Linked DNA regions of Homo sapiens: all the other regions are linked to region 3. Evidence: fine-mapped expression QTL. A gene starts in region 3. Each other region holds a variant in brackets. All regions are shown on one strand. Distances are from middle to middle.

Region 1 (10,193 bases), 70 kb before region 3:
ATCACAGGAAAAAGATACTGTGGGTGTCACTCAAGGATCTCACAACCATCTCAGCCTATGCACCCATCAATGGTGGATTGAACACATAAAATGTGGTACGTATATTCTATGGAATACTATACAACCATAAAAAACAAAATCGTGTATTTTTCATCAACATGAATGCAGCTAGAGGCCATTATTCTAAGTGAATTAATGCAGAAACAGAAATGCTACCAGCTTGGACTGAGGCTCAGAGATGAGAGAAAGGCTGTCAGACTTCTGGGATTCTACAGGACAGGACATTAGAGCTATCCAGATGAGAACGTTCTTACCCTTCAAGAAAAGGAAAGAATGACCACAAAGGCAAGGCTGTCTCCTCGTCAGTACCTGGGGGATACCTCTTTGGTTTTATTGGGCCAGGCTTGCTTGGGACCCATGAACCTTTCTTCTTTTTTCCCTTTGGAACCAGAATGTCTATACTATGCCTGTGCCACCATTGTATTTTGGAAGCAGATCACTTTTTTGTTTAATAGGTTCACAGCTGGGCCGTTCACAATAGAAAGACATGGACTCAACCTAAGTTCACATCAGTGGTGGGTTGGATAAATAAAATGTGGTACATATACACCATGGAGTAATATACAGCCATAAAAAGAACAAAATCATGTCTTTTTCAGCAACATGAATGCAACTGGAGGTCATTATTCTAAGCGAATTAATGCAGAAACAGAAAATTGAATACCACATGTTTTCACTTATGAGTGGGAGCTATACCTTGGGTACACATGGACATAAAGCTAGGGAACAATAGACATTAGGGACCCCCCAAAAATGGAAGGAGGAAGTGGGGAAAGGGCTGAAAAACTACCTATTGGGGCTGGACATGGTGGCTCACACTTGTAATCCCAGCTACTCAGGAGGCTGAGGCACAAAAATCACTTGACCCTGGGGGGGTGGAGGTTGCAGTGAGCCGAGATCGTGCCACTGTACTCCAGCCTGGAGGACAGAGCGAGACTCTGTCTCAAAAACAACAACAACAACAAACAAACAAAATAACAAAACAAAAATAACTATTGGATACTATTCTCACTCTCTGGGTGACGGGATCAATGGAAGCCCAAACCTTAGCATCATGCAACATACCCTTGTGACACACCTGCACATGTACCCACCAAATCTAAAATAAAAATGAAAAAGAATAGGTTCACAGCTGGAGAGGAGTTCTGCCTCAGAATGAATCACACCTTGAGTCTCAGCCACATCTGATTTAGATGAGATTTAGATAAGATTTGGAACTTAGAGTTCATGCCAGCACGGGTCAAGACTTGTAGGGTGTGGGGATGAGGGTGAATGTATTTTGCAAGTGAGAAGGATGTGAATTTCGGGAGTCCAGAGGGCAGAGTGTTATGGGTTGAATTGCATTTCCCCAAAATGTATATGTTTAAGCCCTAACTCCAGTACCTCAGAATGTGACTGTATTTGGAGATGAAGTCTTTTTTTTTTTTTTTTAGATGGAGTCTCGCTCTGTCATCAGGCTGGAGTGCAGTGGCACGATCTCGGCTCACTGCAATCTCTGCCTCCCGGTTTCAAGCCATTCTCCTGGCTCAGCCTCCAGAGTAGCTGGGATTACAGGCGTACACCACCACACCCAGCTAATTTTTGTATTTTTAGTAGAGATGGGATTTCACCATGTTGGCCAGGATGGCCTCGATCTCCTGATCTCGTGATCTGCCCGCCTTGGCCTCCCAAAGTGCTGGGATTACAGGTGTGAGCCACTGCACCTGGCCTAGGGTGGGCTTTAATCCAACCTAACTAGTGTCTTTTTAAGAAGATGCAATTTGGACACACACAGAGACATCCATAATGTGTGCACACAGAGCAAAGACCATGTGAAGACATTGAAATGGTGGGCATCTTCTAGCCAATGAGACAGGCTTCAGAAGCAACTAAACATGCTGGCACCTTGACCTTGGACTTCTTGCATCCAGGAATGTGAGAAAGTAAATTTCTCTTGGTTAAGTCAACCAGTCTAGACGTGGTATTTTGTTATGGCAGCCATGGCAAACTAATACACTGCAAAACAGAGGACCTGGTTGAGATCTAGACTTGAACCCTGATTCTGCCCAAGGAGGCTGCTGTCTACAAACAGGAATTTCACTCTCCAGACAGCAGTGACTCCTGGTGAATGCTCCACAATGGGTTTAAAGACTTGACTCCAATGTAGATGCTTCCCCATGGTCTTGGACAGCTAGGCTGGCAGGTCACCCCTCCATATCTGTCCTTGGCAGACTGAGTGGGTTGGAAGAACTAAGCTGGGATGCCTGCCTGCAATGTCCCCACATCTACTCTGCATGACCAACTGGAGGCTGTGTTTAGGACTTCCCAAGACCCCGAGAAAACTGGATTCTACTTGTCTCTATAAAAGAGTAAAAAAATTAGCTGTGCATGGTTGTCACCGAGTATCCCAGCCTCAAAATGCATTTTAAAACTTTTTTGTTTTTCTTTTTTGCTTGCAGCCTCGAAACATACTTTGAAACTCTTTGTTTCTGCCTTTCCCACCAGGCACTTCCGTGAACAGTGCTCACTTATCTAATTATGTGCTTGCTTAGAAATTCCAGGGGCCAATTTTGCAACAAAGGAGGCAGAGAGACCCCGCTGCAGAATTCTCCCTCTTATGGGGAGTTAAAGTTAGCCCACGACTTCCGGGTTGGAGTCAGGATAATGCAAACCAGACCTCCAGATGGTTGATTCCTCAAGATAACACGTGGAAACAAGACATGTAGACCTCCGCCCTCTTGTACCACTCTGATGGGTTTCCCACGCCTTTTCCTTGTTAAACCCCTTCACTCAGCCCAAAAGACTGAGATGTCTTCTTTGAGGTAGAAGTCTGGTTATCTCCCATCTGCTGGCATTTGATTAATAATGTTGCTTTCTTTTCACTGTACCTGGTTTCTCATATTTTCAGCCTCTGAGCAGTGAGCAGCTGGACTTAGGCCAGCTACATGGTGGTGTCTACTTGTAGCCCCAGGTACTCAGGAAGCAAAGGTGGGAGGATCACTTGAGCCCAGGCGGTCGAAGCTGCAGTGAGCTATAACTGCACCCTTACCCTCCAGCCTGGGTGACAGAGTGAGATTCCATCTCTAAAAAACAAAAACAAAAAAAATTTAAAAAAAAGGATTTCATCGGCAACACAAGGGATTTAGATTTGATCTGGAGAAGCCATTTTGAGCAGGAAAAAGGAACATCCCAGATGAACCCTGAAGAGTTTGCAAGCAGCCAAGATGGCCCTGTAGGTGGCAGGGGTCAGGACACGGGTCTTGGCCTCTGGATGCGGAGGGGTAGGTCTCGGCTGCGCTCGATTCTTCAATGGCTCCCCGCTGAGCACAAATTGAGAATTCCTTCTGCTCTGTGGGAACCCTGGAGTGGAGAGATGCACTTTTCAATCACTTTAATTCCATATTGATTATTTAAAAGTGGGCCCTTTCTTTACGGCATCACAGCTGAGCAGTAATTGACTGTGTAAGAGGAAGCCCCCGTGCAGGGCAGTGCTAATAAGACATCGTCTCCTGAAATGTGCCCGGGCAGCAAGAAGCCGGCTGGCTGCTCCTGCAGCTCCCACGGATCTGCCAGGAATCAACAAGCAACTGCAAAGTTCCCACATCGGAGTGTTGGTCTTGTCGCAGTCCACTTGGTAGTGTGATATTATGATTACAGAGTCACAGTAAAATATTTGCATAGCAAACAGCAGCATTTCCCTGCAATCATTAGAGAAAGCGAGGAAGAGCCTGAGAACCTGCCAGCCAGGAGTCTGTTTGGAAGCACTCCTGAGCCATCATTTATCCCGTGCCCAGTGTGTGCTAAGTGCTTGATAAAATAATGATGAAAATAATCTTAATAATAGCCGCTTATATTGAGTGCTTATAGGTTGGCAGGCATTGTCCTAAGCACTTAGCGTGCATTATTTTTTTTCATCCTTACGACAACTTTATTAGCTCCATTTTACGGATACAAAAACTCAGGAACAGAGAAGTGTAGTGACTAGCCAGGATCACACAGCTAGTAAGGAGAAGGGTGGATTTAAATGTAGGCCCATCTGACCCCAGAGCCTTATATCACAGCAGTTGAAATCAGACAAGGGACATTCGTGATGCACTTTACACAGTTAAAATTATAGTGATGACTACAGATTACTGCTTTAGTGACTCTCAACCTTTCCCCTAACAGCCTCCTTCCT[G/C]TTAGATTTTAACACTCCCAAAACACTGTTTGTATAATGTGGCTTTTTGGAGGCCCACACACCATTGTAATATCTGGGGCACAAAAACCACTGTAATATCTGAGGTTTCTTTGCTCCCTGTCGAACATACATGCTGTAGATAAGAATTATAGAGTTTGTTAGGAGGTCTTTGTAAATTCTATGCAATTTGGATATATTCATTAATTTACTCAAGAAGCTTATGTAGTTTTGTTTGTTTGTTTTTGAGATGGAGTGTCGCTCTGTCGCCCAGGCTGGAGTGCAGTGGCACCATCTCGGCTCACTGCAACCTCTGCTTCCCGGGGTCAAGCAATTCTCCTACCTCAGCCTCCCGAGTAGCTGGGATTACAGGCGTGAGCCACCATACCCGGCTAATTTTGGTATTTTTAATAGAGACAGGGTTTCACCATGTTGGCCAGGCTGGTCTCGAACTCCTGACCTCGCAATCCACCTGCCTTGGCCTCCCAAAGTGCTGGGATTACAGGTGTGAGCAACTGTGCCTGGTGGCTTATATAGTTTTTAAGAGGTGAAGGAAGTGAGACATAGAGAGACTAAGTAATTTGCCTGAATTGACACAGCTAGGTAATAAATAGGGCAGGATTTGAACTCAAGCAGTCTGGCTTCTATGTAGAATTCCTTAACCACTGTACCACACCACTGGATTTCTGGTATGGGCTGTTTTCACATATGTAAGATGTTCACACAAACCTCTGAGAGAAGCATAGGCACTTTCCTCCTCCTTGGATATAAGAGGAGACTGAAGCTGAAGAAGAGGAGGGGATAGGCCTGTGGACTTCTGGCTAAGAAGCAGCAGAACCAAGATCTGAATGTGAGTCCTGGTTATGAGACCCCAGGCGTGAATTCCGTGGAGTAGATCAGCTTTCTTCTTTGTCTCTGGGCTGCGCTGTCTCCCAGGCGTTTTGAGGCATGCCACCCTCTGAGCAACAGTCATACCCACAGCCCACACTCTGCAGAGAAAAGTTTCATCTCATTAGTCAAATTAAAACTTACTTCTGAACTTAGTATATCTGTGTGATAGACTTCAAGCAAATTATAATTTTATTTATTTATAGCTCCCTGTCTTCCAGAAACTTAAATGGCAATATGTTATTGGGCTCATAAAAAATAAAAATAAAAAAAAATAAAATGACACCTCGAGCAGTGCTGTAACTAATTAGGGAGACTTCCAAACTGCTGTTAATTTGAGATGCTAAAATGTGCACCAGCAGCAGCCAGCCTGAGTTCCCCGGGAGGACAGACTCACGCAGCTGTGGAGCTCAGATTTCACATTAAGTCAAACAATTATTTTGACGGGTCGAGTGAGCTCTGCAAAGTGCTATTATAATAAAATCCTTCAATTGCCTTGCCCAGGCAGGTGCACCCAACAAGGGAGGTTGGGTGACGTCAGGGAGTTCTCCATAAGCCGGGTGCGAGGCATTATCTCGACTTAGACATGGCAGATGTTTATTGCAGAGCTCAGATATATGGTCTGGAGCTTTGGGTGAAGCTCAGGAATGACAGAAGCAACAAGCCAGGTTTGCATTTTTTAGAACCCACTTTGACTTTTTTTTTTTTTTGTCTGCCAGCATTATTGTTAATTGTTTTTATTTGAAAGAAAAGTTACAAGATAATGTAAATAATTAGAGTTCCCACACACTTATTACCCAGTTTCCGCTAATGCTACCATTTTACATAATCATGGTCATATTTTTATGCCAGATGCTCTTCTGGATACTGAGGGCACATCTGTCAAGAAAAACAGATGTGATCCCTGTTCTCATGGAGCACAGTCTAGCTGGAGGAGACAGCGCTAGGATAAACCCAAGTCCATGGTCACAAGTGCTGACCATGTTGCTGCTACATCTCTCAGATGCCATCAACTTGTGCCTTGATGGCCAGACATGGTGGCTCACGCCTGTAATCCCAGCACTTTGGAAGGCTGAAGTGGGAGGATCGCTTGAGCTCAGGAATTCGAGGCTGCAGTGAACTATAATTATGCCACAGTACTCCAGCCTGGATGATTGAGCGAGACCTGTCTCTTAAAAAATATATACGTTTTGACCAGGCGCGGTGGCTCACGCCTGTAATCTCAGGACTTTGGGAGGCCGAGAGGGGGCAGAGTCAAGAGTTCGAGACCATCGTGGCCAACATGGTGAAATCCCATCTCTACTAAAAATACAAAAATTAGCTGGGCATGGTGGCACGCACCTGTAGTCCCAGCTACTCAGGAGGCTGAGGCTGGAGGATCCCTTGAGTCTAGGAGTTCAAAGCTGCAGTGCGCTATGATTGCACCACTGGACTCCAGCCTGGGTGACAGGGTGAGACCCTGTCCTTAGCCAAACCAAACCAAACCAAACAGTGTCTTGCTCAGTGTGAGGAGCTGATGAGTGGTGGTGCTGGTGTGTGTCCATCTGGATGAGGGCAGTGGCATCCTAACAGCCCTGGGCTTCATGTGTGTCCAGCTGCACCTCTGCTCAACCTGGCAGCCAGAGGGATCCTGTTGAAAATGTACCATCAAATCACGTCCCTCCTCTGTTCTGAACCTTCCACCGCCTCCTCCTCATGCTCAGGCCACAGGAAATCTTATAATCTTGCTTCCTGCTGCTTCTTGTACTTCTTCCCCAGCCACCAACTCTTTTGCTGTTCCTGGGCTGTTCCTGGAACAAGCCACTCATCTCCTGGAAATCTCCATCCCGGGATCTTTGCTTAGCTGGCTCGCTCCCTTTGTTCACATCCAGCCTGCAATGTCACCCACTGAGAAATGTCCTTCCTAACCATCCGATGAAAGCACAAAAGCACAGCACCTTGCTTTTTTTTTTCTTTTTTTTTTTTTTTTTTTTTTACTTCCAAGAACTTTTCACAACCTGAAAAGTTGTGGATTTTATTGTTCTCTTTCTCTGCCTTCAGTGTAAGCATCTCTGTCCCTGATGCCTAACACAGTACTTGGTCCATAGGAGGCATTTAAATAATATTTGTGGGGTGAAAGTTTGTCTCTGTGTCTGAATTCTTCCCTTCTTCTCCCTTCCCTCCCTCCCCATCTTCATTCCTCCGTCCCTCCATCCCATTTTTCCTTCCTTCTTTCCTTCCTTCCTTCCTTCCCTCCTTCCTTCCAGTTCCCCTTTTCTTCTTTCCTTCCTCTTAAGCAGTTGTTTAATGGCCCCCACGTTGGTCCTGACATACACAGAAGGAGCTTTTCCAAATGCTATGGTTGTCTCCTGATGTGTATCCACCAAAGCCTGTTGGCCTCACTGGAGTGAAGTGCCATAGCTCACATGATGTGGGTCGCCACCTCCAACCCCCACCCAATACATTCTCAAAGCAGACACCTCCTAGCCAAGTTTTTTCTTCCTGCTCTCCTTCAGAGACTCAGGCTTTGGTATGAACAGGACAGATGTGCATGTGCTGAGGCCTCTGGTTCACTCACTTCTACTTTCACCTGTCACTTTCTTCTTGGCCTCTGCCAAGAATTTCAGGCCAGGAGAAAAATTCAAGTCAGCCACCTGCTTAATCTGCTCTTCCCCATTCCTTTCAGCACAACACAGGGAAGAGCAGGCTAAGGAAATATGGCAGGATCAGGGGAAGAGAGACCAGTCAGGGCTGATTTCCATGGGTCTTTTATTTGAGGAGATGCCAGCCCTTACGTGGAGAGACCTTGTAGTCCTTTTAGCCTGGAGCTTCCAGGCTGTCTGAACTGCAGAAGAAGAAGGTGCCCATCTGTTGGTCTTCGGCATCCAACCAGTCCTCTCCATCAGATGGTTGCGGAAGACATCTGTATTAGTCTGTTTTGTGAGACCCAAATCAGGAATACAATTCTATTCACAATTGCCACAAAAATAAAATACCTATGAATACAGCTAAGCAAGGAGGTGAAAGATTTCTACAATGAGAATTACAAAACACTTCTCCAAGAAATCAGAGATGACCCAAACAAATGGAAAAGCATTTCATGCTCATGAATAGGAAGACTCAATATTATTAAAACTGCCATACTGCCCAAAACAATTTATAGATTTAATGGTATTTCTATTAAATTACCAATGACAGGCCAGGCGTGGTGGCTCATGCCTGTAATCCCAGTACTTTGGGAGGCTGAGGTGGGCGGATCACGAGGTCAGGAGATCAAGACCATCCTGGCTAACATGGTGAAACCCTGTCTCTACTAAAAAATATTAAAAAATTAGCTTGGCATGGTGGTGGGCACCTGTAGTCCCAGCTACTCGGCAGGCTGAAGCAGGAGAATGCCATGAACCCAGGAGGTGGAGCTTGCAGTGAGCCGAGATCATGCCACTGCATTCCAGCCTGGGTGACAGAGCAAGATTCCGTCTCAAAAAAAAAAAAAAAAAAAGAAAAAAGAAAGAAACAAAAAAAACTACCAATGACAGTCTTCAAAGAACCAGAAAAAAAACCATTTAAAAATTCATGTGAAACCAAAAAAGAGCCTGAAGAGCCAAGGCAATCCTAAACAAAAAGAGCAAACCTCACACTATCTGACTTCAAACTACACTACAGGGCTACAGTAACCAAAACCCCATGGTGTTGACACAAAACAGACACATAGACCAAGGGAACAGAATAGAAAACCCAGAAATAAGGCCACATGCCCACAACCATCTGGTCTTCAACAAAGCTGACAAAAAGAAGCAATGGGAAAAGGACTCCTTATTCCATAAATGGTTTCTGGGATAACTGGCTAGCCATATGCAGAAGATGGAAGCTGGATCCCTTCCTTACACTATATACAAAAATCAACTCAAGATGGGTCAAAGACTTAAGTATAAAACCCCAAACTATAAAAACTCTGGAAGACAATCTAGGCAATACCATTCTGGACATAGGAATGGACAAAGATTTCATGACAAAGAAACCAAAAGCAATAGAAAAAATCCCAAAATTGGCAAATGAAATCTAATTAAACAAAAGAGCTTCTGCACAGCAAAAGAAACTATCAACAGAGTAAACAGACAACCTACAGAATGGGAAAAAAATATTTGCAAACGATACATCTGACAATGGTCTAATAAACAGCATTGATAAAGAACTTAAACAAATCTACAAGAAAAAAAAGGAATACACATTCCAACATGAGATTTGGAAGGGACAAATATCCAAACCATATTGTTCCATCCCTGGACCCCCAGATGGAATGTCCTTTTCACATTGCAAAATCATCTCTTCTCAATAGTCCCCCAGAGTCTTAACCCATTCCAATATAAAGTCCAAATTCCAAAATCTCATCTGAGACTCAAGGGAAATTTCTTCCACTTAGGTCTTATTTTAAAGTAAAATTATGAAATTTGGGTACCTCTTAAAAAATCCATATCTAACAATAGTAGGCCAGATTTCAACTGGAGAAAGAGGAGTTAAAATGGAGTGGAAGCTGTTTCTTTTTAGGGGGTCATTGAATCTTCATTTTGCCATTGAGCTTAGTTAGCTGATCTCAGTTTTTTCTATTATCTGGCTGACTTCTAAAGGTACTTATATGTATGACTTTTCTATACTGTTCCAAATCTAGGAGCAAAGCAGAATGTCCACATGAAAGAATCCAATCGTGTGATACACCACCCTGCAGATAATATACTGCCAAGCTATGATTATCCAGTGCAAGTCTGGTTAACAAGAAAGATTGTGAGGTGGAAAGGGATTTTCTCATTCTTCAGGGCTCCAGGACAGAAATGAGAACAAGTGGTAGAAACCACAAGCAGGAAGAACCTGGTCCATCCTAAAAAGAACTTTCTAATAACGAGATCTAACAGGAGAATTAGGCTGCTTTATCAAGTAGTGAGGCACCTGGCATTGGAGGCATTCAAGTAGAGACTGTGTGATCATCTGTTGAAATAGCTGAAGAAGAGATATCTATTATAAGAGTCAGAGGAGGTGATAGTTTTAAGGAACATTTTAATGATGAAATTCTTGTGTTCTGATTCCATCACTGGAAGACTGAAAGTTAATGTATGGTGTG
Region 2 (10,193 bases), 740 kb after region 3:
AGGCTGAGGCTGGAGAATAGCTTGAACCTGAGAGGTGGAGGATGCAGTGAGCTGAGATGGCATCACTGCACTCTAGCCTGGGCAACAGAGTGAGGCTCTGTCTTAAAAATAAATAAATAAATAAATAAATAAATAAATAAATAAATAAATATGTAAATAAATAAAATTCTCATAGGAGAATCAACTGTGCATACAAGGGATCTAGGTTGTGTGCTCCTTATGAGAATCTAAAGCCTGATGATTTGAGGTGGAACGGAACAGTTTTATTCTGGAACCACCTTCCCCTACCCCATTCCATCCATGGAAAAACTGTCTTCCACAAGAGAAACCCATCCCTAGTGCCAAAATGGTTGGGGACTGCTGCTACATGACATGGAAAATGAACAAACTATAGCTATGCCCAAAAATTAGTGATGCTTACAAACACAACGTTGAGTGAAATGAGCAAGACATAAAATCATGCATAAAGTTACAGTATAACTTTGCTCATGTAAATTTCAAAAACTAACAAAACTAAGCCCTACTGTTAAGGGAGGATAAGTGGTAAAATTACAAAGAAAAGCAGGAAATATATTACAATAAGTTTAGATGGTTTTTGTTTTTCCTGAGAGAAAGGGAAGGAACTGTGGTCTTGATTGAGTTATTTGAGGGAGTGTAAAGGGGAGATTGGGGATGCTCATATATCATCTCCCTGGCCTGAGTTGCTGGTGCCTGTATGTTGCATTACTCTCATTTGTTATCCTTTTTGGTGCGCTTTTCATAAATGTTTTATTTTACAACAACAACAAAAAAGTTTAGAATAAACAAAAAGTTTTCACATATGCCAACGATTTAAGTCATAAAATATTACAGTTAAGTCTAGACCTTCATTACTGGTCAGGATATTCATTTGTAAATAACAGGATTGGCTCTAATTAGTGTAAGCAGGATAGAATTTTTCATGGTAGACAGCTCAGAGGGTCATTGAAACAGCTGAAGAAACAGACTCTAAGCTGAACTTGCAGAACCACACAACAGAACTGAACCCACAAAGAAGCTACTGCCATCAGGGAACTCCTGTATCAAAAGCCACCACTGCAGCGACAGACACCAGGACCTCACTGCTTCTGCTGTGACTGACACTAGGAAGATGGATGCCCCTGCCTCTGTTCAAATCAGTCTCTCACACAAGGGCATCTGATTAGCCACACAGAAATCACATCTGCACCCTAACATAAGACAGGCTGGGGAAAATAAGATTGTTGCTGTGTATTTGTTTGTTTTTAAGACTTTACTTTTCTTTATAGGAGTTTTAGGTTCACAGCAAAATTAAGAGGAAGGAACAGGGATTTCCCATATCCTCCCCGTCCCCCTCCACATACAGCCTCCCTCATTATCAGCATCCCCCAGCAGCATGGTGCATTTATTATAATGGATAAACCTACACTGACACATCGTTATCACCCAAAGTCCATAGTTTACATTGGAGTTCATTCTTGGTGTTGTATGTCCTACGGGTCTGGGCAAATTTATAATGCCATGTATCCACCATCGTAGTATCATACAGAGTAATTTCATGGCCCTAAAAATACCCTGTGCTCCACCTATTCAACCCTCCCTATCCCCAGACCTTGGCCACCACTGATCATTTTACTATCTCTATAGTTTTGCCATATCCAGAATGTCATGCAGTCAGATCACAGAGTATGTAGCCTTAGATAGGCTTCCTTCACTTAGTAATATGCATTTAAGGTTCCTTCATATCTTTTCATGGCTCAATGGCTTGTTTCTTTTCAGCACTGAATAATAGTCCATTCTCTGGATGTACCACAGTTTATGTATCCATAAACTGTGTATCCAAAACTACTGAAGGGCATACTGGTTGCTTCCAAGCTTTGGCAACTATGAATAAAGCTGTTATAAACACTCATGTGCAGGTTTTTGTGTGGACATAAGTTTTCTTCTCCTTCGGGTAAATACCAAGGAGCATGATGGCTGCATCATATGGTAAGAGTATATTTAGTTTTATAAGAAACTGCCAAACTGTCTTCCAAAGTGGCTGTACTATTTGCATTCCCACCAGCAATGAATGAGAGTTCCTATTGCTCCACATCCTCACCAGCATTTGGTGTTGTCAGTGTTTTGGATTTTGGTCATTCTAATAGCAGGGGTCTCAACCCTTTTTGGCACCAGGGATTGGTTTCGTGAAAGACAATTTTTCCAGGAATGGGGTAGGAGGATGGTTTCGGGATGAAACTGTTCCACCTCAGGTCAATTAGATTCTCATAAGGAGCTCACAACCTAGATCCCTCGCATGCACAGTTCACACACAATAGGGTCTGTGCTCCTATGAGAATCTAATGTCGCTGCTGATCTGACAGGAGGTGAAGCTCAGGTGGTAAATCTCCCTTATCTGCCACTCACCTTCCACTGTGCGGCTGGATCCTAACAGGCCACAGACTCCTACTGGTCCATGGCCTGGGAGTCAGGGACCCCTGCTAATAGGTGTGTAGTGATATCTCATTGTTTTAATCTGCATTTCCCAGATTCCTGAATGACATATGATGGGGAACATCTGTTCCATCCACTTATTGGCCATCTGTATATTTTCTTTGGTGAGGTGTCTTTTAAGGTCTTTGACCCTGTTTTGTGCTTGTTTGTTTTTGCTTTTTCTTTTTAATTCTATCCAGATAAGGCAAGATTTATACCATGGAATACTATCAAGACAGGATGCTCAAAATACTACGGGCAGCCATGAGGGCAGATATTCTCAGCACAGACTATGTAATTTAGTCTTGTTATTTCACAGGTTGATGAAATGTTACTGGATAAATAAAATAACTTAGCTGTCTACAGGAAAGCACATATGTTGTAGGGCACATCAAGAAAACTGATTTTAAGTTCTGGCCCTGCACTTATTAGGTGAATTACTTACCTCTCAGTGCCTTGGTTTGCTCAGCTATAGCTGATGGCATGATGCTATAGTAAACTCATAGTACAGCTATGAGAATTAAATAAGATAATATGTGTGAAATAGCCTGATGTAGTGTGTGCTCATTTAATTTCCGTTTGCTGCTGTCTGCTTCAGAAATTTTCCAAGAAGCTCATTGTATTTTTATTTTCTGTCTTGCCAAACATACCTTTTCTTAAAAATGCTAGTCCATTAGAAATACAGAGAGGACTGAATTCATATGTGATTTTTAGAACAAGTGTCTGCTTTCTCCCTCCAAAATTCCAAGAAATTACCAAAAAAGCACTTTTAAATAATAAATTCATAAAAACCCAAGGACGTGTGGGGTGGGAGGGATGTTGGAGTAACCCCCACATTACAGGAAATGACTGCTGCAGAGGAAAGAGTAGGTTTGAGTTCCAAACCCAAACTAAAGAAAGACAAAAAGTTGCAGGTTTCTGGTGTATTCTCGAGTTAAAGAATTGGGAAATTACACTCAGAGAAACCAGATAAAAAAAGGAAGGACACATACAAAGTGTTCAGAGCTCCACAGAGATGGGGGAAAATTTTTAAAATTATAAAAGAACTCTATGTAAAATTTATACCACTAATTTTGAAAATCCATTCCAAGTGAATGACTTCCTGAGAAAATATAACTTACTGAAATTGACTCAAGAAGAGGTAGAAAGCATGAGTAGACAAATAACCATTGAAAATATTGGAAATGCTGTCAAAAACCTACTCAAAATGAAGTATCAGTGAAAGCAATTTGGAAATAGCTACTAAAATTAAAAAAAAGCATACATTGCAACTCAGAAATCCCACTCTTC[G/A]GAGTTTATCAAATAGAAATAAAAGGACCAGTACCATAGGATATGTGTTAACTTTGTTAATGCAGAATCATTTGTAAAAGAAAAATTAAGGAGGAGACAAAGTGAATGCCCTACCACAGAAAATTACACCTTTGAAAAGTGAGCTAGATCTTTATCAGCTAATTTGAAACAATTTACAGAATGTATTGATAATAAGAAAAGCAGGACACAGCAGAGTACATGCATGTGTATTCTGATTTTTACAAAATAATAATCAGAATAAATATTTCTATGAACGAGTGAAAGATGTGTGTGTGAAATTATATATGTGCATGCAAGTTTGTATAATTTTATAAGTGTAGAGAAGGCTGCAGAAAGTAACACTGACCTGTAAGCATTGATTATAAAGTGGAGTTTGGGGAATGAGTTGGAAGGGAACATGAAGGAAAGAGTTTAGCAAAAAAGAAAGAAGGAATGAAACAGAGAAAGAAAAAAGCGAGAGAGAGAAAAAGAACGAAAGAAAGAAAGAGAAAGAAGAAAGAGAAAGAGGAAAGAAAGAAAAAGACAGAAAGAAAAGAAGGAAGAAAAAGAAAGACAGAAAAGAGAAAGAAAGAAAGAAAGAAAGAAAGAAAGAAAGAAAGAAAGAAAGAAAGAAAGGAAGGAAGGAAGGAAGGAAGAAAGAAAAAGAAAGAAAGAAAGAGAAAGAAATTCATGTAAATTAAGGAATCTATGACAAATTAAGGATTCCAGGACAAAATGCTTTCACGCTATGAGTACTTCTATGTAGAATTATATATGTGTATGTTTGAGTATGCACGTATATGTGTGTGTTATATGTATTCATAAGTGTAAAAAGTAAAAATACCAACAAGGCGTAAATTAAAAAAATGATACCAACCCAGGCATTTGACAGATAGTCCTGTCAAACCTTTAAGACACAATAGAAAGCCCTAAAACTAAAAAGCTAGAAAGCGTCTCAGTTCTTTCTGTGAATCCCTGTACAAACACGATAAACACCCCAGTAAAAAACTACAGCCTCGTCTCACTTAGGGACACAGAAGCAAACTATAAGCCAATCATACGCAGAAGTGTATAAAAGAAAAATATATCATGACCACATAGGGCTCATTCAAACAATGTAAGGTTTCAGTTACAGCATGTAAAGACCTTAGACAACCCATCACTCCCATCCTTCCAACAACAGAAAAGTTGAACAAACTGATAATCAATGTCTTTTCTTAGATCCTTCAGAGAGCTGAAGCCACAAGGCAAACTGCCACCTTATAATTAGGAGAGACAGTTGATGAATCCAGAGAGTTAAGAGTCAAGATCTACCCACCTGGAGAAGAAGCTCCTGGAGGCATACACTGATAGGAACACTTAAATGGTAATTCTGACAAATTATCATTTAAAAGAAGAACTACTGTGGACTAACATGAGAGTGAGCAACTCCTAAGGCCCCCAGACTTAGGGAGTCTCTGATTCTCTGACATCAACTGGGTGTTTAACAACACAATTCAATTCTGACACCAACTACTCAAAGCACAGACCCAACAGGTCAAGTCCAACAAAACTGTGTCCTACTTCGGATGCTGGCTGCAAATGTGGTGTCAAGTTTACCCACATTCCTGCCCACCCAACTATGAATTCAGGAGTTCCCATGACCACCCCTCAGGCTTGATCATTTGCTAGCTAGAATGGCTCACAGAACTCAGGAAGGCACTTTACTTAATATTACTAGTTTATTTTAAAGAATACGACTCAGGAATAGCCAAATGGAAGAGTAGCATTAGGTAAGGCATGGGGGTTGAAAGATGGCATAGAGCAAGCTTGTCCAACCCATGGTTCAGGACTGCTTTGAATGCAGCCCAACACAAATTCATAAACATTCTTAAAACATTTTGAGATTTCTTTGTGTGATTTTTTTTAGCTCATTATCTGTTGTTAGTGTTAGTGTATTTTATGTATGGCCCAAGACAATTCTTCTTCTTCCATTGTGGCCCAGGAAGTCAAAAGATTGGACACCGCTGGTGTAAAGCTTCCATGTCCTCTCTGGACATAGCATTCTCCTGGCACATTAATATGTCACCAACCCAAAAGCTCCCCAAACCCCACTATCATTTAGGGATTTTGTTATGCAGGTTTCTTAATGCAGGCATAACTGATGAAATCATTGTCCACTAGTGACTGAACTCAGTCTCCCAGCCCCTTTCCCCTCCCTGAAGGTTGGAGGGTGGGGATGAAAGTTCAGCCTCCTAATCATAGCTTAATCTTTCTGGTGACCCCAGTCTTGAAGCTATCTAGGAGCCCCCTGCCTGGAGTAATCTCATTAGCATACAAAAGACAGTAAATTCCAAAGGTTTTAGGAGTTCTGTGCCAAAACACAGACCAAATATTTATATTTTTATTATACCACAGGGCATCCACCACAATTTAGTCAGCTTTACGTCCAGAAACTCTACTAGCTTTTCCCCGTGAAAAGCAGAGGAAGGTCCCTTGTGGCTCTGGTGGGGAATTGGAGAGAACAGACCTATCCAGGGTGGAAAACACCCAGGTATGCCCAGAGCATTCTCCATAACAAAGGGCTACTCTCCAGGGAATAAGACTTTACCAGAGCCTTATCCAGCTGGGGAAAGGGCATTCTCTCATTCCAGGCCCCTCTATCCTTTCTGTCCCACCTAAGGGAGGGAAGAAAGTTTAAAAAAACACTACTAAGCTCTCAGCCCAGGCAGTCAAGCCCACTAAAGGACTGAAACTTAACTATAAGATTAAAGAAAGTGAAAACCAAAAATAAAATACTAAGCCCCCACAAACGACTAAACATACACACACAAACACACACAGCCCCTTGGTGAAGAGCAGCCCAGAGTAACCTGAAAAACTAAATTCCAAGACATTATGGGAAGGGAGGTCAGACATAACTTGTTACACTCCTCTTGCCTTTCGGAGTTTAGTCACAACTGACCAGCACTAACATTAAAATAGTGATTATAAGACTGACAAAACAGACTCCTTGCCAATAAGATACCAAATTCCAATCTGACTCTGGTATAGCATCACATAACAGATAGCAAACTCTGAAGGAAATCAAAATATTTTACTCTAAAACATATTTCTTTGACATATTTTGAAATGGCCCTGCAAAGCCATCTTTATGGGAGAAAATTTGCATTTGTAGAGAATCTCTATTAATGCAGCCAGGCCTTTCCTAAATCTAGGAGAAATTACCTAAGAGTCTGACACCTTTAAAGTCCAAAAGGAGACATTTACCACCTATTCTCTCTGAAGTCTGCTATGTGGGGGCTTCATCTACATAACAAGAACTTTGACTTCCACACCCATCCCCCTTTTCTGAACTCAAGAATTTTTTTCTACCATCTTCAAGTCCTAGCTTAACTCTTTCAACCAACTGCCAATCAGAAAATCTTTCAATCCACCCATCAATCAAAAAACGTTTGAAATCCTCCTATGACCTATTGGTTCCCCACCACCCTTTTGACCCATTTGAGAGATCCCACCTTCCCAGACTGAGCAAATGTGTACCTTACATGTATTGATTTATGTCTTTACCTGTATTTCTATCTCCCCAAAATATATAAAGCCAAGCTGTAACTCAACCACCTCGGACACATTTTCTGAGGACCTCCTGAGATTGTTCCCCAGGCCAACTGACAGCCCAGGATGGCTTTGAATGTGGCCCAACACAAATTTGTAAACTTTCACTCATATTGGCTCAGAATAAACCTCTTTAAATATTTTACAGTTTGCATTTTCTTTTTTTTTTTTTGTCAACAAACACCTCGCCTCCCTTACCACCACACCAAGGGCTCCAGTAAAATAACAGTGGATTATAACGGAAAGAGCCACAAGAAGTAGTCTCTTTCTGAGAAAGAGTATTTAAGGAAATTTAAAGTCAACAGGAGAGGCAAAAATGTCAGAGGCGTTTGAACCAGAGCAACTCTGTCTTGTAGATGGGCTGGTTACATAAGGCTGAGACCTACTGGGCTGCATTCCCAGGAGGTTAGGCATTCTAAGTCACAGGATGAGATAGGAGGTCGGCACAGGATACAGGTCACAAAGACCTTGCTGATAAAACAGATGGCAATACAGAAGGCAACCAAAACTCACCAAAACCAAGATGGTGATGAAAGTGACCTCGGGTCATCCTCACTGCTCATTATATGCTAATTACAATTCATTAGCATGCTTAAAGTCACTCCCACTGGCACGATGACAGTTTACAAATGCCATGACAATGTCAGGAAGTTACTCTATATGGTCTAAAAAGGAAAGGAACCCTCAGTTCCAGGAAGTAGCCACGCTTGTTGGTAAGTGCCTGTCGTCCCAGCTACTCGGGAGGCTCAGTCAGTGAGCTATCATTATGCCACTGCAGTGAGCTATCATTGTGCCACTGCACTCCAACCTTGGCAACAAAGACCCTGTCTCAAAAAAAAAAGACATGGAGTGGCTAAACAGATGGACAAAAAAGAAATCCATACAACCTACAAAGCCTGAATCATAAAGAAATAGAAAATCTCAATAGACCAATATCAAATAGGGAGATCAAATCAGTAATCAAATACCTCTCAACAATGATAAGTTAGCTACACTGGTGAATTCTACTAACATTTCAAGAAGAATTAACATAAATCCTTCTCACACTTTTTCAAGAACTTGAAGAGGAGGGAACACTTCTAAACTCATTTTTACAAGACTAGCACCACCCTGATACAAAAGCCAGACAAGAATACTGCAAGAAAAGAAAATTACAGGCCAATATTTCTAATGAACATCAATGCAAAAATCCTAGCAAACCAATTCCTGCAGCAAATTAAAAGAATTATAAACCATGATGAAGTGGGATTTACCCCTGGGATGGTTCAATGTATGCAAATCAATAAATGTGATACATCATATTAACAAAATGCAAGGGCAGAAAAAAGCATTGCATAAAACTCTACATCCTTTCATGATAAAAACTTTCAACAATATAGGTATAGAAGAAATGTACCTTCACATACTAAAGGTCATATATGACAAGTACACAACTAACCTCAAACTCAACAGTGAAAAGCTTAAAGCCTTCCCTCCAAAATCAGGAACAAAATAAGGATGCCACTCTTGCTACTTTTATTCAGCATAATACTAGAAATCCCAGCAAGAGAAATTATGCCAGAGAAAGAAAGAAATTAAACGCATCCAAATTGGAAAAAAAAGAAGTTAAATTGTCTCTGTTTGCAGAGGAATATATATATATATATATACACACACACACACACACTCACAAAGATTTCACCAAAAATCTGTCAGAACTAATGAAAAAATACAGTAAAGTTGCGGGATATGAAATAAACATACGAAAATCAGTTGCATTTCTTTACATGAACAACTCTCTTAAAAAGAAATTAAGAAAACAATTTCATTTACAAAAGCATTTTATAAGGTAAAATACTAAGGTAGAATTTAACCAAGGAGGTGAAAGATCTATACATTGATAATAACGCTGGGGAAAACAGGTTAATCAGCTAAAGTAATTTTACAAGTGTTGAGGCAAGAGCAGGACAGGAGGGAATTGTTAAGAAACAGAAAATCAGAGAAGACTGGTGGAACTAACTTTAAAAACTGGGGCTGACACAACTGAGTATACATTTGGAAATTTTTAAATAGTACAAGATTCATCCTTCACATTGCACACACAAAATTAAACTGGAGATGAATTAAAAACTTCAACGTTAAAAATTCAAAATGATTAAAGAAGAATATAGGATAATACCTTTATAATCTTAGAATGATGAAATATGAAGCATGAAACAAAATAATCAAGGGAAATACTGCTTGATTTCATGTAATTAATTTAAAACTTCTGTTTGACAAAAGATTCTGCAAAGGAAGCTAGAGACAAGTAACAATCTAGGAGAAATTTTTTCCATCCTATATGACAGAAATAGGATTGAAATCCAGAATGTATCGAGAGCTCTTATAAAGAGCTTTTAAAAGAAAAAAAAAAAGATTGCCCATTTAAAAAAAAATGGGAAATAATGTGCATATGAAATTCAGAATAAAGAAATATAAATAGCTAATATTTGAAAAGAACGTCAAGTTTACTAGTAATTAGGGAAATGGATTTAAATCTCAAAGCATGGCCAGGTACATGCTGGACTTAATACCTAGGTGATGGGTTAACAGATACAGCAAACCACCATGGCACACGTTGACCTATGTAACAAACCTGCACATCCTGCACATGTACCCCAGAACTTAAAAATAATTAAAATTAATTTTTTAAAAAAGAAATAAAAACCAGACTTTCAGAAGCACTTAAGGAGTTTGATTGGAAAGGGGATTAAAGAAGAGATGGACAGGCTATTCCAAGAGAAACAAGTAAAACTAAGAGAGAGTAGGACTCTATTTGTCATGAGAGACCCTGCTGACTTTCTCATTTGGAGACATCTAGC
Region 3 (10,193 bases):
CAAGTAAGACAGTTTCACTTTAATAGGGTGCCCAAGTGGAGTAAAAAAAAATGTCAAAGCCAAAGTGTTTGTAGGAGTGAAAGATTCTCAAGAGAAAGTAAGATGAGACATCAAACGAATTGGCTTTGGTAGAAGACAGGTCTAGGCTGCAAAAACAACCTGGATAGCTTGCTTGCTTGCTTTCTTGCTTTCTTGCTTGCTTGCTTTCTTGCTTGCTTTCTTTCTTGCTTTCTTTCTTGCTTGCTTGCTTGCTTGCTTGCTTTCCTTCTTTCTTTCTTTCTTTCTTTCTTTCTTTCTTTCTTTCTTTCTTTCTTTCTTTCTTTCTTTCTTTCTTTCTTTCTTTCTTTTTTTTCTTTGAGATGGAGTTTGCTCTTGTTGCTCAGGCTGGAGAGTGCAATTGTGCAGTCTCAGCTCACTGCAACCTCTCCGCTTCCCAGGTTCAAGCAATTCTCCTGCCTCAGGCTCCCGAGTACCTGGGATTACAGGGGTGTGCCACTGTACCCAGCTGATTTTTGTGTTTTTAGTAGAGATGAGGTTTCACCATGTTGGCCAGGCTGGTCTTGAACTCCTGACCTCAGGGCATCCACCCACCTGGGCCTCCCAAAGTGCCGGATTATAGGCGTGAGCCACTGCACCTGGCCCACAATGTGGACAGCTTCTGATTGTGACCCCCAAAATCACGGGTCTTGGTTGAGTCTGTTTCCACATCTGAACTTCAGTTTAGGGATACTGCAGTGTACTTCTGCTGGATTTGCCCCTACAGTATTCCTCTGGGGAAACAACCCTACTCCACTCATCCTCCCACAAGAAGTCACTTCTTGGCCAGGCACGGTGGCTCACGCCTGTAATCTCAGCACTTTGAGAGGCTGAGGCGGGTGGATCACAAGGTCAGGAGTTTGAGACCAGCCTGATCAACATGGTGAAACCCCACCTCTACTAAAAATACAAAAATTAGCCAGGTGTGGTGGCACGCACCTGTAATCCAAGTTACTCAGGAGGCTGAGACAGAAGAATGGCTTGAACCCAGGTGGCAGAGGTTGCAGTGAACCAAGATTGTGCCACTGCACTCCAGCCTGGATGAAAGAGCAAGAGTCCATCTCAAAAAAAAAAAAAAAAAAAATTACTTCTCATATCCCAACTCAGGAGGGCACACAGCTCATGTCTGCCTCACTTTCATTCTGTAAGGGCTAGTGGGTGAGATGGATTGCATCTGTGACATTAATTCTTCACCCTGCTCCCCGCATGCATGCTGTTGCATTCCTCTCACTAAAAAGGAGGAAGCCCGTTTCTCCATCCTTGACACTGGAGTTGCCAATCAGATGCAGTGGAAGTGGGGGTGAGTCACTGTGGTGCTGAGACCTGCCTGGTGAGTTTCCACTGGCTACTGTTGTGCTTTGCTATTGATATCATCCCTACCATCTCCATAGGAGTGACAAAAATTGCATGCTGGGTTCTGGAGAGAAATATAATTCAGCATTCATTAGGCTGCACTCTTACCCATTTCCTTGTTATTAAAGTCACAGCACTAGATACTGACCATTGCATTCCTATCATTCCTATAGACAGGATCTCTGACATGAGAGTCACAGGCTGTTTAAGAATTGATTTGCATACCCATTGTTCCTATAGACAGGATCTCTGGCATTAGAATCATAAGGCTTTTGTTTAAAGATCACTTTAGATGTTTTTCAGGTCCTGAATTCCAGTGGAATAGCTGAAGCCCACCAGTTCGAAGATTCCCAGGGAGGAACCAAATCGACACATGAATACAGCTTCTTTCATCCCCCTGTCCAATGACTTCGCCCTGTACTCTTTGACCAATCAATGAGCTCCACATTTTAGCCTACTCCAAAACCCTTAAAAACGCTTACCCCAAATCCCTCAGAAATGGACTTGAGGTTTCCTCCTATCTTGTTGTTTGGTAGCCTACGATTAAACCTCTTTCTCTGCTGCAACCTGGTGTCTTGGGGTGTTGACTTGCAGAACACATCTGGCAATGGATCTGTTACAGTTATGCATTCACCATGGGAACATGCCTGCTGGAGAAGGAAAAACGTGTGGAGCAGAGCCAACTCACTCCAGTCTCCTCAACCGGTAGCCAACCAACTCCCAGGTATGTGAGCAAGACCATCCAAGATCAGCAAAGCCACCAGTGGGCCCCCAATGACCCCAGCTGCATGAGGAACACATTTATTTTTATATACCACTGAGGCTTTGTTGCTCACTCTTTCTGTGGCAGTAGATAATTGATATAGTTCATGACCACACTTATGGCCAATCAGAGTTAGAACTGAAACTTTTGCTAGAACAATTAGCACAGAGACATTTATTTTTCTACTGATACTTTTGTGCTGAAAAGCTCTAAGCCTAGAGCAGCTGGAAGATGCCATGTCACCTTGGAGAAAGGGTGTCTGAGACTGATGCCAACACAGAAGAGTAGAAATTTACAAATAAGAAGGAAGAATTCTAACAATGTTTTTTTGAGTTCCAGGGTCAAGCCATTCCTGTAACAACTAAACTAGACTTTTCACTTAAATGAACTGAATGCTACCTTATGTTTCTTGCTACAGTCAACTTACGTTGGATTTTTAACCCCAGGTTATCATAGAGTCCTGATCAGTAGATGTATTTTCAATGTAGAGTATTGTGAAAAGTAATGAGTTATAAATGTGCCTCCATTGGAAAGTCAAGAGTCTAGAAAAACACGGCTGTTTTTCTGAATTCCAGGTAGTAAAAAAAACAAGTGTTTCTATCCTTTCTTGTGCATTTTACTTTCTAGAGTGCCAGAGGCTTGCGTAAGTAAGTTTGCACCTTGCTGAGCTGTTAAGAGGCTGTGATGACAGTTGCCCCCACAAGATTTCACCAGTACCTGGAAATAAGTATGACTCACTCCTGACTCAGTTTTGGTGACCACGAGGGCACAGCAATTCTGAGAAAGACTGGGCCAGGTTGTTCTTCTACGTCAGTGATTTAACTCATGCCATAGATGGTAGAAACCAACCATTTCAGACCTGAAGGAGATGGCAAAGATGAGATCATCAAAGACTCATGGTTTCCTGTGGAGATAACCAGAGGCAGAGGGGCGGAGGCAGTGCTGGTGGAGTCTGGCATCCCATGCAGGACTAAGAAGATGGGCTTTGCGGGCAGAGAGATGGAGGTTTGAACCTAAGCGTTGTTATCTATAAATGTAGCCACTGTGGGCAAGTCATTTAACCTTGCTGGGCCTCCATTTCCACTTTTGTAAAGTAGGGGTACAGTACCACACAAGAATGAAAGATCATTATATATATATGTGTGTGTGTGTGTGTGTGTATATATATATATATATTTATTTATTTATTTTTTGAGGCAGGGTCTTGCAGTGTCACCCAGACTAGAGTGCAGTGGCACAATCATGGCTCACTGCAGCGTCCAACTCCTGGGCTCAAGCAATCCTCCTGCCTCAGCCTCCTGAGTAGCTGGGATGACAGTCACATGTCACCATGCCCAGATAATTTTAAATTTTTTTAGTAGAGATGGGGTCTCATTATGTTGCCCAGACAGGTCTCAAACTCCTGGCCTTGAGCAATCCTTCCAAAGCTTCCCCAAATGCTGGGATTGCAGGCATGAGCCCCAGCATCCGGCCAGTTGCTGCTTACATTTAATATGTGTAGGCACTCCCACTCTGGGAGGAGCTACTTAATCTTCCTCATCACCTCCCACGTCCCACAAAAAGTGGGCTTGACTTAGTGGTTTGCTTCCAAAGAATAAAGTATGAGAAGGGAAAATACACTAATTAGAAAGTGGAGGCTGGGCATGGTGGCTCACGCCTGTAATCCCAGCACTTTGGGAGGCCGAGGTGGGTGGGTCACAGGTCAGGAGTTGGAGACCAGCCTGATCAACATGGTGAAACCCAGTCTCTACTAAAAATACAAAAATTAGCCAGGCGTGGTTGCACATGCCTGTAATCCCAGCTACTCAGGAGGCTGAGGCAGGAGAATCGCTTGAACCTGGGAGGTGGAGGTTGCAGTGAGCCGAGATAGCACCATTGCACTCCAGCCTGGGTGACAGAGTGAGATCCCATCTCAAAATAAAAAAAAAAAAAGCAAGTGGCGAAACCTGGCAAATGCTACCCAAGTGATGAATGCCAACCTCACTGAGGAAGCCTGGTGGCTCTCATGCAGCCTTGGATAAGATGTGAAGAGGGGCCGGGCGCGGTGGCTCACGCCTGTAATCCCAGCACTTTGGGAGGCCGAGGCGGGTGGATCATGAGGTCAGGAGATCGAGACCATCCTGGCTAACAAGGTGAAACCCCGTCTCTACTAAAAAAAAATACAAAAAATTAGCCGGGCGCGGTGGCGGGCGCCTGTAGTCCCAGCTACTCGGGAGGCTGAGGCAGGAGAATGGCGTGAACCCGGGAAGCGGAGCTTGCAGTGAGCCGAGATTGCGCCACTGCAGTCCGCAGTCCGGCCTGGGCGACAGAGCGAGACTCCGTCTTAAAAAAAAAAAAAAAAAAAAAAAAAAAAAAAAAAAAAAGATGTGAAGAGGAAGATGCTTCAGTTTTGTGGTGTTCTTCCCCCAAACCCAAACTCCAGTCTACTCATGAGAAGTCCACCAGAGAAACCCAGAGTGGAGGACATTCTACAAAATACCTGGCCAGTATCCCCACTAGGACTTCCAGGGTCATGAAAACCAAGGAAAGACTGAGAAATGGACACATCAGAGGAGACTGGGGAGATGCTACAACTAAATGCAATGTGATACCTTGGATCAGATGGTGGAACAGAAAGAGGACATACATGGAAAGACAGATGAAATTGTAATTAAGTCCAGAATTTAGTTAATAATAATGTAAGAATGTTGGTTTTTCAGTTGTGACAAATTTACTCAGGTTATGTGAGATGTTAACAAGAGGAGAAAATGGCTGGGCAAAACTACTGGCTCATGCCTGTCATCTGATAAAGGAAAAACTTCAGCCAAGTGCTGTGGCCCACGCCTGTAATCCCAGCACTTTGGGAGGCCAAGGTGGGCGGATCACCTGAGGTCAGTAGTTTGAGACCTGACCTTTGCACTCCAGCCTGGCCAACATGGTGAAATCTCGTCTCTACTGAAAATATAAAAAATTAGCCAGGCATGGTTGTGGACACCTGTAATCCCAGCTACTCGGGAGCTGAGGCAGGAGAATTGCTTGAACTGGGAGGCGGAGGTTGCAGTGAGCTGAGATCATGCCATTGCACTCTAGCCCAGGCGACAGTGTGAGACTCGATCTGAAGGAAAAAAAAAAAAAGAAAAACTTCAGGCAAATTGAATGTAAAGGAGTTTAGTTGAGCAATGAACGATTCAGGGATCGGATATCCCCCAGAATCACAGCTGATTCAAAGAGACTCCAGCACAGCCATGTAGTGGAAGATTTATAGACAAAAAAAGAGGGCCAGGCGCGGTGGCTCACGCCTCTAATCCCAGCACTTTGGGAGGCTGAGGCGGGTGGATCAAGAGGTCAGGAGATCGAGACCATCCTGGCTAACACGGTGAAACCACACATCTACTAAAAATACAAAAAATCAGCCGGGCGTTGTGGCAGGCGCCTGTAGTCCCAGCTACTCAGGAGGCTGAGGCAGGAGAATGGCGTGAACCCGGGAGGCAGAGCTTGCAGTGAGCAGAGATCATGCCACTACACTCCAGCCTGGGAAACAGAGCAAGACTCTGTCTCAAAAAAAGAAAGTGGGGGGAAATGATGTACACAAATCAGAAGTGAGGTACAGAACAGCTGGATTGGTTACAGGTTGGCGTTTGCCTCATTTGAACACAGCTTCAACACTCATCGGTGTATGAGTGGTTGAAGTATAGCTCCTGGGATTGGCCACGACTCAGCTGTTGTTACAGGTGTGTACTCCTATGTTCGGTTTTCAATTTTGTCTACCTATTAAGTTAGGTTGCAGTTTGTCCACAAGGACTCAAATATAGAAGTACAGAGTCCATATTTAGTTTGTGTTAACAAATCCCAGCACTTTGGGTGGCTGAGGTGGGAGGAATACTTGAGCTCAGGAGTTAGAGACCAGCCTGGGCAACATAGTGAGATCCCATCTCAAGTAAAATTCTCTGGGTCAAATCGTTTCTCCTTAAAAATTTTTTTAACTGGGAAAACTTGGCGAGGGTATATAGGAACCTCCCGAACTATCTTTAAAGCCATTTGATAAATCTAAAATTACTACACAAGAAAGAAATACTTAAAACACAGCTTTCAAAATAAAATATTGAATTGCTTTTGATTTAATCTTAGTTTAGTTGTGGGCATCAGTTTCATTTTTTACCCACAAGGTCCCCAGACTTAGAGATCCAGGAGATGAACTCAAGAGCAGCCCGTTGCCTGCAGTGGCTGACATGAAGCCTTTCTGCGTCATCGGTGTCTTGTCTGATGCTTCCCCAGTGGAATTTCCTGCTGTGTTCCTGGGAAACCCAAGCAACCAGAAGTTCATCCAATTATTTATTTGCTTCGAGTCATCCGGATGTAAAAGTATGCAGCTATCATATACTGGTGAAGGTAGAGAATTATGATGATTGTCATTTATTGAGGACTGTGGTAGGCACGGGGGGTTACATTTTGTGCAAAGTGAGCTAGGGCTGGGGGTTTCTCATTCTGAACTTGCAGATGCACAATATCAGGGGAGGATGCTGAAACTAAGAGAGGTTAAGAAACTTGCCCAATATCACAGATGCAGAAAGAGAAAGAGCTTGAAATGGGCTTGAACACAGTTCTTTCTGAATCTGAAGTATATCTTCCTAACCCCTAAGTCAGACTTTTAACATAGACTGTTAACACTTCAGAGGTTCTTCAGATACCATCTAATACAGAGATCTAATCTCTGTATTAGATGGTATTTGAAGATACTATCCCACCTTCAACTCCCAGATAACTTTAGTTCGGAGCTGCACAATGGGTTTATGGTTGCTTTTTCTTTGATTGTTGCTTCTCTTTCCTTTTTAGATTGAATTTATTGTCAGCATTTGAAAATAGGGAGACTGCACTTTCAAATATCAGACTTTCATGTTGTTCAGAAAGAAATGGGTGCTCTGACTAAAAGGGGGGGCTTCATTCCCACCTGGAGCTGAGTCCTGACTTTCAGTTAGATCAGGTGCACATACTGTTCTCTAGTTCAGACCCCTTCCCTCCCTCACCCCCAGCCCTAGCTCACTTTGCTCCTTTACTTTCTCTACCTGGCCCCTGCAGTTGGCAGCCACTGACTAAGTCCATTTTACTGGAGTGAAAATTGCTGCTTAGAGAGGAGTAGTTACTGGTCAGAAGTCACACAGCAAGCCTAAAGAAACGTCATTCTGGCAGGCACTCATTTATATCGTGAGACAGAGCTATCTGGCTCTCTGACGTCCTGTGTCTCTCTGTCCCTTGCTGTCTCCTCTATGGCTGACCTACTTCAACCTCCTGGTGGGTCACATTCTCTGGGTCAAATCGTTTCTACTTAAGCACCCCAAGAGGGGCTACCCTGCTCGCAGGTTATTTTAACACTTTATATGAAAGCCTTGTTCTTGTCAAATACCTCGAAATGAATAAGGGTTGAACCTTTTCTCTTAGGAGGATGGAAAGCTAGTGGAGACTTTTAAAATTTAACTTCATCTTAGAAGAAAGAGGAGAGAAAGAGAAAAAGAGGGAAAGGGGAGGAAGGAAGAAAGAAAAGAAGGAAGGACAAATCACAAACTGGAGTTTGACATGTCTGTGATATTTATTCCTTTCTTTAGTTAGTTCTCTTTGACTCCCACGGCTGATAACTCTGCTTCATCTTCTTCCAGGAAAGCAGGTAGAGATGTGGTCAGTTCCCACTTCTAGTCTCTAAGCTAGCCATGATTTATGGTGGGACACATAAATGAGACTCCCCAGGAGCCAAGTGCCAAGGCAAAGATTTTGCAGAGAGGATCTCAAAGCATCTATAACCTTAAAAAAAAGATGACTCTTGTCATTTCTTTTTGTGTCATACATAAAGTTGAATAGAGCATGCATTCATAGTTTATGAGCCATTAATAAAATGAACATCTGTGAGTTCACCATCGTTTATAAGAAATATAATTTTAGCTATAGCTTAGTAGCTTTGTGTGTTTCTTTCTAATTCCATCTTGCCCCTTCTCTCTGCAGGATGCTGCTTTCCTGAATTTTGCATTATTTTATTTATTCAGTCATGCAGTCATTCATTTTAATATTTTATGAAAATTATCAAACATGCAGAAAATTAGAAAGGATAGTACTATTGAATATGGTATACCTATAATTGAACAACTGGATTCAACAACTTTTTAATGTTTAGCTTTTATTTGGCCCATATTTTTATTTGCTTAGCCATTGTTTAAGCATTTTATTTTGTAAAATATCAACTATATATTAAAGCAGAGAGACTGGTAAAGTGGATCCATTCCAGCTTCAATATCTTCAATGTGTGGACAATCTCATTTCATTTGTTCTCTCAGTCATTCCATGCCTATTCTTCCCCAGCTCTGGATTCTTTCTGAAGCAAATCCCAGATATTTATCTGTAAATATTTCAGTCTGTCTCTCTGAACGATAAGGACTCTTTTAAAAATACAATCATGACCAGGCGTGGTGACTCACGCCTGTAATTCCAGCACTCTGGGAGGCTGAGGAGGGCAGATCAGGAGGTCAGGAGATCAAGACCATCCTGGCTAACACAGTGAAACCTCATCTCTACTAAAAATACAAAAAATTAGCCAAGCATGGTGGCGGGTGCCTGTAGTTCCAGCTAATTGGAGGCAGGAGAATGGCATGAACCAGGGAGGCGGAGCTTGCAGTAAGCCGAGTTCCAGCCACTGCACTCCAGCCTGGGGGACAGAGCGAGACTCCGTCTTTCTCTCTCTCTCTCTCTCTCTCTCTCTCTCTCTCTCTCTCTCTCTCTCTCTCTCTATATATATATATATATATATATATATATATTTATTTATTTATTTATTTATTTATTTATATAATCATAATGTCACTTTCACATCTGAAATAATGAACACTTTCTGAATATCACCAAATACCTAGTCAGTGTGTAAATTTCTTGATTCCTGCTCTTCCTCTCCCTCTCTCTCTCTCTTTTGTTTTTATAATTGCTGTCTTATAATGGGGATTAAAACAAAAATCTCCACAGTGAATTTGGTTGATAATTGTTTAAGTCCCTGGGTTTTGTCTTCTTGTTTTTCTGTTTGTTATTATTTTGTTTCCCCTAGTGCAATATATTTGTTGAAAAATCTGCATTGTTTCTCCTGTACAATTTCCCCACTTTTGAAATTTTGCAGAGTTAGACTTTTGGTGCTATTTAACATGTTATTCCTTTCCTTTTATCTCCTGTAAACTGGGATTTAGCTATTGAGCCTTCATCAGATCCACATCTGATTTTGGGCCAGAGTATTTTATAAGCAGCGTCCGTGTGGTTCCATTAGGAGGGTCATAATGTCTGGTTGTCTCCTTTTGTGATATTAAGTAGGTTCCGGTGTTGCATCATTTAATCTACCCATTGTAAAGTCCCTGACAGCTTTTAACCTAATAGGTTTTCACAGACAGTCATTCCCCAGGAGTTGGGCTGAATCATTTTAAAGTAAGTTCATATACCAAGCCACTTTATCCTTAAATACTTACAGCACAAATTGCCAAAAAGTAAGGGCATTATCCTTATAACTCAACAGATTTTTCCCATCTAATAATACCTATGCTCTAATATTATTTAACATCCAGTTCACGTTAAAAAAATCTTCCAAGTATCTACATTTGTTCTTGAATAACCTTTTTATTTTAGAATAGTTTTAGAGTTACAGAAATAATTGATAGCATAAGAGGTCTCATATACCACATACCCAGTTTCCCCTATGATGATGATGATGATGATGATGATGATGATGATGATGATTTGAGACAGAGTCTCACTCTGTTGCCCAGGCTGGAGTGCAGTGGCACGATCTCGGCTCACTGCAACCTCCACCTCTCAGGTTCAAGAGATTCTCGTGCCTCAGCCTCTTAAGTAGCTGGGATTACAGGCACACGCCACCACACCCAGCTAATTTTTGTATTTTAGTAGAGACAGGGTTTCACCATGTTGGCCAGGCTGGTCTTGAACTCCTGACCTCAGGTGATCCACCTGCCTCGGCCTCCCAAAGTACTGGGATTACAGGTGTGAGCCATTGCGCCTGGCCTCCCCTATTATTAACATCCTGCAT

Alleles and levels. Positions count from the first base shown, and alleles are read on the strand shown. Sizes are in standard deviations (SD) of each study's normalised expression. Not every link is listed here.
For the expression in fetal neocortex of the gene that starts at base 5,781 in region 3, allele A in region 2 goes with a higher level than allele G (large effect, 1.2 SD a copy in Walker 2019).

The links. PIP is the estimated chance that this variant, and not a neighbour inherited with it, causes the effect.
Region 1: its variant is fine-mapped to the expression of LINC02195 in unexposed skin (GTEx, PIP 0.98).
Region 2: its variant is fine-mapped to the expression of LINC02195 in fetal neocortex (Walker 2019, PIP 0.95).

The regions. Positions count from the first base shown.
Region 1 is chr16:26,660,726-26,670,918 of GRCh38, reverse strand. No RefSeq gene overlaps it. Among named protein-coding and RNA genes, the nearest start is that of LINC02195, 70 kb to the right of the region's middle. The variant G/C (reference allele first, on the strand shown) is at 4,217.
Region 2 is chr16:25,852,122-25,862,314 of GRCh38, reverse strand. The region is part of intron 1 of HS3ST4 (heparan sulfate-glucosamine 3-sulfotransferase 4); the gene reads right to left. Among named protein-coding and RNA genes, the nearest start is that of HS3ST4, 170 kb to the right of the region's middle. RefSeq lists a silencer at 6,953-7,247. The variant G/A (reference allele first, on the strand shown) is at 3,760.
Region 3 is chr16:26,591,037-26,601,229 of GRCh38, reverse strand. LINC02195 (long intergenic non-protein coding RNA 2195) reads left to right here and starts at 5,781. Exons shown (of 3, transcript XR_950950.3): 1 at 5,781-5,862; 2 at 6,298-6,493.